2 linked regions of the Homo sapiens genome follow. The protein of the gene in region 1 purifies or fractionates together with the protein of each later gene. This does not show direct contact. Each region holds a gene or a part of one and is shown on either strand. Other genes may lie near its edges.

Evidence for each region. Proteins that work in one complex are often made in the same cells at the same time.
Region 2: the proteins of PCDHGA7 (region 1) and SLITRK3 purify together in Homo sapiens (affinity purification with mass spectrometry; one large-scale study listed by BioGRID and IntAct). This does not show direct contact.

Annotation. Positions count from the first base shown.
Region 1 is NC_000005.10:141,381,555-141,385,541, reverse strand, and holds the start of PCDHGA7 (protocadherin gamma-A7 isoform 1 precursor), read right to left. Parts: upstream 2,801-3,987; 5' UTR 2,643-2,800; coding exon 219-2,642; coding exon of another isoform or gene 189-218; exon of another isoform or gene 1-188. UniProt on the Homo sapiens protein: Potential calcium-dependent cell-adhesion protein. May be involved in the establishment and maintenance of specific neuronal connections in the brain.
Region 2 is NC_000003.12:165,193,585-165,197,716, reverse strand, and holds the start of SLITRK3 (SLIT and NTRK-like protein 3 precursor), read left to right. Parts: upstream 1-1,332; 5' UTR 1,333-2,137; intron 2,138-4,132. UniProt on the Homo sapiens protein: Suppresses neurite outgrowth.

The DNA.
Region 1 (3,987 bases):
CCACATATTCATAATCTTGTCCATAGGCTTTCACTAAAGAAATACTATATCCTATGTGTTCTATATTAAAGTGTCACCACTGAAGGAAACTGGTAAACTCATTTTTACCTCTATAAAGTTTTTTAAATCCCTATTTTCAAAACATTTGTTTTGCAAAATAATAGAGAAATATCATGCAAATAAATTCCTCATGGAAATAAAGGAAGGGCTGGGCTCACCTGAATACTTGGCAGGTTTTCTTTACATTCCTGAAAATCTACGGATGTTAGCAAAGAATCATTTTTCTCACAGCTCTCCTGGCTGATGAGCATGTCTACATAGTTGGGCTGGGGGAAGATCAGGTGACTCTTCCGAGAGTCCGCGGTGAGGGAGACCTCATGGGAATAGGTCTGCAGGAAAGCCTGCACCCCGTCCATGCCCACAAAGTGCGAGGTGGGCACGTTCGCCAAGCCACCTTCTGAAGCCTGCAGCAGGCGTGACTTGTGCCAGCGCCGCAGCCTGAGCGCCAGCAGTACGAGGACGAAGGCTAGGAAGACGCAGGAGACTGTGGCCACCGCCACCACCAGGTACAACGTGAGGTCATAGTTGTAAGGACCGTCGGAGGGCTCAAGGCTGCCCAGGTCGGCCAAGACTTCGGGGATGCTGTCAGCCACAGCCACGGTGAGTGTGACGGTGGCTGACAGAGGAGGCTGACCGTGGTCCTGGACGGCCACCACGAGGCTCTGCTTGAGGGCATCTCTGTCCAGCAGGGCCCGAGCCGTGCGCACCTCGCCCGTGTACAGCCCAACCGCAAAGAGTCCTGGCTCGCTGGCCTTAAGCAGGAGGTATGACAGCCAGGCGTTCTGGCCTGAATCTTTGTCCACCGCCACCACCTTGGTCACCAGGTAGCCGGGCTCTGCGGAGCGGGGTGCCAGCTCCATGCCAGTAGAACCATCTGTGGGGAGGGCCGGGTACAGGATCTCGGGCGGGTTGTCATTCTGGTCCAGCACGAACAGGCTCAGTGACATGTTGCTGCTGAGAGGCGGGTCCCCGCTGTCATGTGCAGTCACTCTTAGTTGTAGTTCTCTCAACTGCTCATAATCAAAGGATTGCAGCGCGTACAGGACTCCAGTGTCAGAGTTTATGGAGACATAGGAGGACACTGGAGCCCCCTGGATGGTGTCTTCGGCCAAGGAATAAGTGATCTGGGCATTATCCTCACTGTCGTGGTCCTGTGCAGTCACTAAGAAAATGGAGGCCCCTCTGGGGTTGTTCTCAGCGATGTAGACTGAGTAGGATGAGTGGGGGAAGGTGGGTGGGTTATCGTTGGTGTCTGCCACCTGCATGAATATGTGAGTTTCCCTGGACAAGGGAGGAGTTCCACCATCTGTGGCTTTCAGTGTGATGTTATACAAAGAGAGTGTTTCCCGGTCCAAGTTTTTGGTTGTGACCAATCTATAATAATTATCTATTGATTTTTCTAATTTAAAAGGTAGGTTTTCTGGAATGGTGCAGGTCACCTCACCATTCTTTCCAGAATCTCTGTCTTGTAGGTAGAAAAGAGCAATGACTGTCCCAAGAGGTGTGTCTTCAGGGATTGAGCTACTTAAAGACGTCATAGTCACTTCTGGAGCATTATCATTTACATCTAAAACTGTGATCAGTACTTTTGCCTTTGTCAGACTACCAGGACCATCTTGAGCCTGAACCTCCATTTCATAGAAGGCAGTTTCTTCATAATCTAATCCTTCTAAAGTTGATATTTCTCCTGTAAGCGAGTTCAGATGAAACATCTTTGGAAGTTTAGGAGTTATTTTCCGAAAAGAATATGTCACTTCCCCATTGACTCCCTCGTCCAGGTCGATAGCATGTACCGTGAGCAGTCTTGTACCCACTGGCACATTCTCGGGGACAGTTACTTGGTACTGAGGCAGAGAGAAGACAGGCGTGTGGTCATTCACATCCACCACTGTCACCTGGATGTGGGCGGTGCTGGATCGGGGCGGGTCGCCGCCATCAGAGGCTGTGAGGACCAGGTGGTGAACCCGCTCTTCCTCCCGGTCCAGCACCCGCTCCAGCACCAGTTCCGGGTACTTAGTTTCATCGTCTCCACTTTGCACAGCCAGGGAGAAGTGGCGATTGGGGCTGAGCTGGTAACTCTGGAGGGAGTTCGTGCCCACATCTGGATCCCCAGCCTCGCTTAACGGAAACCGAACCCCAGGAGCTGTATTCTCCATTATTTTTACATTTATTTCTTCCGTCAAGAATCTTGGAACGTTGTCATTAATATCTATTATTTCCACGTCTATAGGGTAAAGATTCATTTTATCTTCCATCAGGATGTTAAAGTTTACCAGACACCGCGCACTCTGAGCGCAGATCTCTTCCCGGTCTATCCTGCCCGCAGTGACCAAGCTGCCGCTGCGCTGGTTCAGGGCGAAAAGCTGCGTCCTACCTCTGGAGATGATGCGGACTCCGCGCTCCGCCAGCTCCCGGGGCTCCAGCCCCAGGTCCTTGGCGATGTCTCCCACAAAGGACCCTTTGTCCGTCTCCTCCGACACGGAGTAGAGAATACGTCCTGCCCAGGCTTCCCAGGGGGTCCCCAGGAGGATGGAGAGCAGGAAGAATCCTCTGTAGTCCCCGCCCCTCGGCTGAGCCGCCATAGTCGTCCTGCTTCTCTTGCTTAGGCGCCGATCTCGGGAAGTGCTTCAGAATGCGGGTGTATCCGGGTGGACCCCTCTGTCTTAGGAAGGGGAGCTCAGAATCCAGCAGGATAGAGGCTTGAGTTTAGTGCAGCCTGGAAGAGGGCTTATCGCAATCTGTCGTTTCTCTGTGCTGTAAAACTCGGTGGTTTCTGTGGGATCTCTCGCACCATTTTTCCCTGGTTGGTGAACAGCGGCGCTGTGAGTCCTTACTAAGTTACTGCACCACATTGATGCACACAATACACTGATTTCATAGAAAATTGTTTCATCTTTCAAAATTTCCCTGTTAGATTTCTTTGCTCTAGATATCCCTGATAATTAAAAATCCATTTTAAGACACTGAATTAATGCAACAGTGTTCATGGACCGGTGTTTGATAATCTTAGATAATTTTTAAAAAACTGCTTTGCCTTGCAACTTTCAAGTGACTCTTTTGGGCACTGACTCACACGTTATTGCACATGGGAAAATCAGTTATTGAAGGCAAAAAGGTAAATTTTATTTAAATACATATGAAAGATTTTACTTAGAAAATATTTACATCAGTGTATATAAATTTTAATTAATTCAGTATTAATTGAACACATATGTTCTAGACACCATGATGCAAGATTCAGAAAGTCAAAATTGTTGTAAAATATATAGACCTATTTTAATAAATTTTTGATTGTATAGAACCTTAGAGACGGTCTAACACCTTCATTTTAACCGTTTAAAAAATGAGAGGGGGGGCCAGGTGCTGTTGCTCACGCCTGTAATCCCACACTTTGTGAGGCCGAGGCGGGCGGATCACCTGAGGTCGGGAGCTTGAGACCAGCCTGACCAACATGGAGAAACCCCGTCTCTACTAAAAATACAAAATTATCCGGGCGTGGTGGCGCGCGCCTGTAATCCCAGCTACTCAGGAGGCTGAGGCAGGAAAATCGCTTGAACCCGGGAGGTGGAGGTTGTGGTGAGCCGAGATCACACCATTGCACTCCAGCCTGGACAACAAGAGCAAAACTCTGCCAAAAAAAAAAAAAAAAAAAAAAGAAGAAGAAAGAAAGAAAGAAAGAAAGAGGGAATTGCCTTGCCTTGTTCCTGATTATTGATTATATAGTAGTAGAACAATGTCGGAATCCAAATATTCTCACTCCCAGTCTTGTGAGAAAAAAAGAAAGAAATCGTTGTTTGTCTTGGCTGCAGCAATCAGCTATAGAAGCAACCCATTTTCTACAGAAGGCAGAAATCTGCAGAGATCCTACTGGGCTGTGAATTCATAAGAAACTGGATAATGGATTGGCTGATTCTTTTCATTATGCAA
Region 2 (4,132 bases), on another chromosome or scaffold:
TGGACAATGTATTGCATTCTCTTCAGGAAGAAATGGCAAGAGATACAGAGATGATTCCCCAGGCTACCTTCTATTCACTTTGGGAGTTAGTGGAAGACTGCCCTCTTTCCAACACAGTCTCTGATGAAAGGGATCTATTAAAAAGAATTGCGTTGGTTTACACTGCAGATTGAATGGAGCATTAAACGAATGACTGCATTAGTATGACTGCAGTGGGGGTAATGGTCGCCTCTGTAATGTTGTAATAATACTTTCACATACGTGTTATTACACGTATTAATTGTTCCAGTGTCCGTATCTAATTTATCGCGAAATGGTATCCAGCATCTCTCAGGCAAATGCCCCCCTCCCAACTCCCTGTGCCCTACAGTTTTATGCCCCCCGCCCCCGGCAAATGTAAACAGATGAGGAAATATGTGTACTTTCAAATCGTCACCCATGTATCATGAAGGTGGGGGATTACTGCAAATCACTTGGAAACCGCTCCCCGGAGGCGTTTAGCGATACCGCCCACCAATACAGCTCAGATGTTCTTAATTTGATCACCCTCCACCTTTTGGGCTGTAATTTTCCAAACAGGCATCTCTCTCATTTGCAAATAAAAGTTACAAATCAATCCACGGGTACAGAATGCTGACTTCCCGACACTCAATTTCACAGGGTGTCTCTTGAAGAGCTGCCAGGTTGTGACCGATAATGGGGGAGAGGGAAAGGCGGACAGCGAAAGCGAGAGAGAGAGAGCGAGAGCGAGAGCGAGAGAGAGAGCGAGAGAGAGAGAGACAGAGAGAGGAGAGAGAGAGAGAGAGAGAGAGAGAGAGACAGAGAGAGAGAGAGAGAGAGAGATCACTTGCTTCCTTGCTTCCTAAGCCGGGATTTTGCCTGCGATGCGCGGCGAGAGGACTGCGGCGGCTGATTTACACAGTTGGCGCGGAGGAGGGGCCGGGGGTGCGGGGGGGACGCGCTGGCGGAGCTCCGGCGATGGGCTGATCTGGGGGCTCCCGAGCGCCGCTCCCTTGGTGCGCGATTTGGGGGCGGCTGATGGATTTGCATTCAGGTTCCAGCCCTGCGTTTCCTATATTGACTCCTTATACACGACCTGGCGCTCCAGTTTAGGAGGAGACGTTGGTAAGTAACGTGTAATCCGATTTTAGTTATTTCCTAGGCCATTAAAGTGGCACTTTTAAAGCAGGTCAGTCTTAAAAGATGCCGCCGCCGCCGCCGCCGCGAGCGTCTCCTTGGCCTGAAACGTTCAGCAGTCCCCTCCCCCTCCCACCCCCCTCCCCCGCACCTTCTCCCGCTCGAGAAGTGAGGGTGCTTGAATGGTGAGCGGTCAGAGGACTCACTCTCTGCCAACGGTATCGCTTCACCTTCGTGCTTTGCCTGAGATCTCCCAAATCCAAGTGGAATTTGGTGTGCACAGCCATACTGTGTATTTGTATCTTCTCTCCCCCTCTCCTTCTTTCCCCCCACCTTCGCCGTCTGACCAATGCTGGGATCTGAGATCTAGTCGCCCCCTTCCTGCCTCCTTTCCGCCTCTCCCCACCCTTTTCTTCTCTCATCTACACGCCACCAACCCCCACTCCCACCCACCTAAAGGGCAAAGAGCAAAGACACCCTGGAAAAGCAAGGGCTAATTCCATCTTCTCGGATGGAAGGAGGCCTCGGGCAGGGATTGCGCTGTGAGTGACAACCTTTGAGGAAGAGAGAAAGAGAGAAATCCAGAGACTGAGCTCAGGCTCTCGGGAACAACGAAGCTCTCCACTGATCCAGAGCACCGAGATTTTAAATCAAAGGAACCTAGTCCTGGGACACTCACTCTGCCTGCCTGCCTACCAACCATCGAGGGCATAGGGAGCTGTGGTCGTGAGCTCCCTGTCGCTGGCATCGCCGCGCTAGGTGCGCGCCCCGCTCTCCCATTGGTATGCAGCGACCATTTCCCTGCAAGTCTCAAAGGTGGAAACATTTAAACGGATTACAAGCGTGATTCGGTAGCCTTTCGGAAAGTTGGTGGCCAGAAGAGGAGAAGCTACAAGGCTACAGTATGATGGATACAATTCAGCTTCGCAGAGAGTTTGCCCCTCCTGCTGGGTAGCCCCTCGCAGCAAACCTCGGAGATCCTGAGCGCTCTGCACCATAGGTACTCGCCGCCATCCTTTCCTACTTCGCCTAATTGAAACCAGTATTTCTCGTATGTAGGATGTGCATTGTAGAGCACATCGAGTTTGGCCGCGGTGTATTCTGTACGCTCACAGGTGCTAGGGGTTTGTTGCAGTTTTGAATTGGATCAGTTAGGTGTAAGGACGTTGGTGGAAGGAGGGGTACCGGAGACTAACATACCCTCGGACCTCTTTTCTGGGTGAAGACATCGTAAGTAACTCCAACAAATAGGCCAGGTGGCGGAGCGAAGGACCCCTCCCCCAGTGGAATGCTCGCTGGTGTTGTAAGAGGTAGAAGGAAAAAGGCTTGAGCTTTTAATAATTTTCCGTTTCTAAACAGACCATTGTGCGTTTCGCCTGACGACAGCAGATTAGAAAAGGCTCTATAGACGGCTCAAAGCTCTTCAGAAAATGAATGATGCAGCGTTTTAATTATTTGTTCTAGGGAAGATAGTTTTGCTTCCATATTGGAATACTTAATCTTAGATCTGAAAAAATTAGTGAGCTGTAAGATCCAGCAGTGGGGAGGAGGAAGTGGGAAGGGGGCACAGCAGGGAGAAAGGGCTTCTTGTCCTCCCTCTGGACAAACAAATGGCTCTGGGCGCTCCCAGCAGGACACGGAAAAAACTGGGGCCCCATGGCTCAATATTCCCTAACTTTTGGAGCCCTCCCTGTCCTTTAGACGCGCTATCCTGAGCTAAAGAAAAGGAAAAAGGTGAGATAGCCTTTAGGACACAGCCCAGGTCCAGAACGTAAGGGGTTTTAGTTCAAGAAATAACAGAGACTTCATTGCCGAGACAACATTTACCGTCATCTGGAAGCTCAGGGCAGCCTCCGGGTTACCCATCGATTCCATCACATCATGGGTTCCGATAACACCCGATAAATAGTCACCGCCTCTGCACATTGGGTACCCAAAGTGCTGGGCGGGGGATGGGGGGGAGGGTGCGGGTGCCGGCAGCTGGGGAGGGAGAGGGAATTGCTCTGATTCTGAGCTTAGGCTATCGGTATTGGTTTACTTCTTGGCTAAGACCTATGGGAGCAATAGGGTGAGTCTGGAATATTAAGGGTAGAATGTTAGAAAATTCTGCCCTCCTGCTTACTTAGTGTATGGTGGCATGTTTCTAAAATTAGCTACTGTCTGCCAGTGGACTCCTGTGCGGTCATTTTAAATGCAAAATATCATGGAAATTGCCTTTGACTGACTTTTAAGGAACACATTGTTAGGTGATTTACCTGTTTTAGAGCAGTAAGAAATTGACATGTAAGCTGTGCTTTGCTTTAAAATTTGCTTTTGTAAAGGGTCCATTAAGGGAAAACCATCTCTACCTACTAACTTTGAGTCCTTGGGCAATTGAGGTTCAGTTTAGTTCTTTAGCAACCAAAAAGTCCCTGCCTTCTCCCCTCCCGGCGAGGAGTTGGTGACAGGATTGGTGTGTGCTGGTGGGGGCAGATGGGGAGCATCCACAGCACACGGGTCCTGTTGATTAGACTCCTTTGCTGCACACTTGGCTCTCCCCAGTTTCCCCACCAAGCTGCATTCCTTCCCAGCAGGCAGGACTGTAGTGCTGTCAGCTGAGCCTTAAAAAAATTCCTCTGAAAGCGTTCCTGAACTGTCATCTGGTAGTCCCTCTACAATACAATATCTTCCTTCAATCACCTCCACCCCCACTCCCACTACTCCCTAGGATTCACTCCCCGAAAATTTCACGGAGAAATATTTGAGTTTAAAAAATAAGAAAGAGAAAGAACGGACAAAAGCATCCAAATCCTTAAATCCACCCCAATCCCGCGAGGTCTTTCCCGGTGGCGCAATGTGAAATGTACCATTGTTACCCAAGTGGTCTGTATCTCCTTCCAGAGAATTGGCTTGTCTCTGTTTTTAAAAAGTGGAAGAAAAGAAATGCTGTTGAATCCAGGGGCTATCGAAGGCTTTGACCTGCAGCACAACAAAAGAATTCCTGGTGCAACGGGAT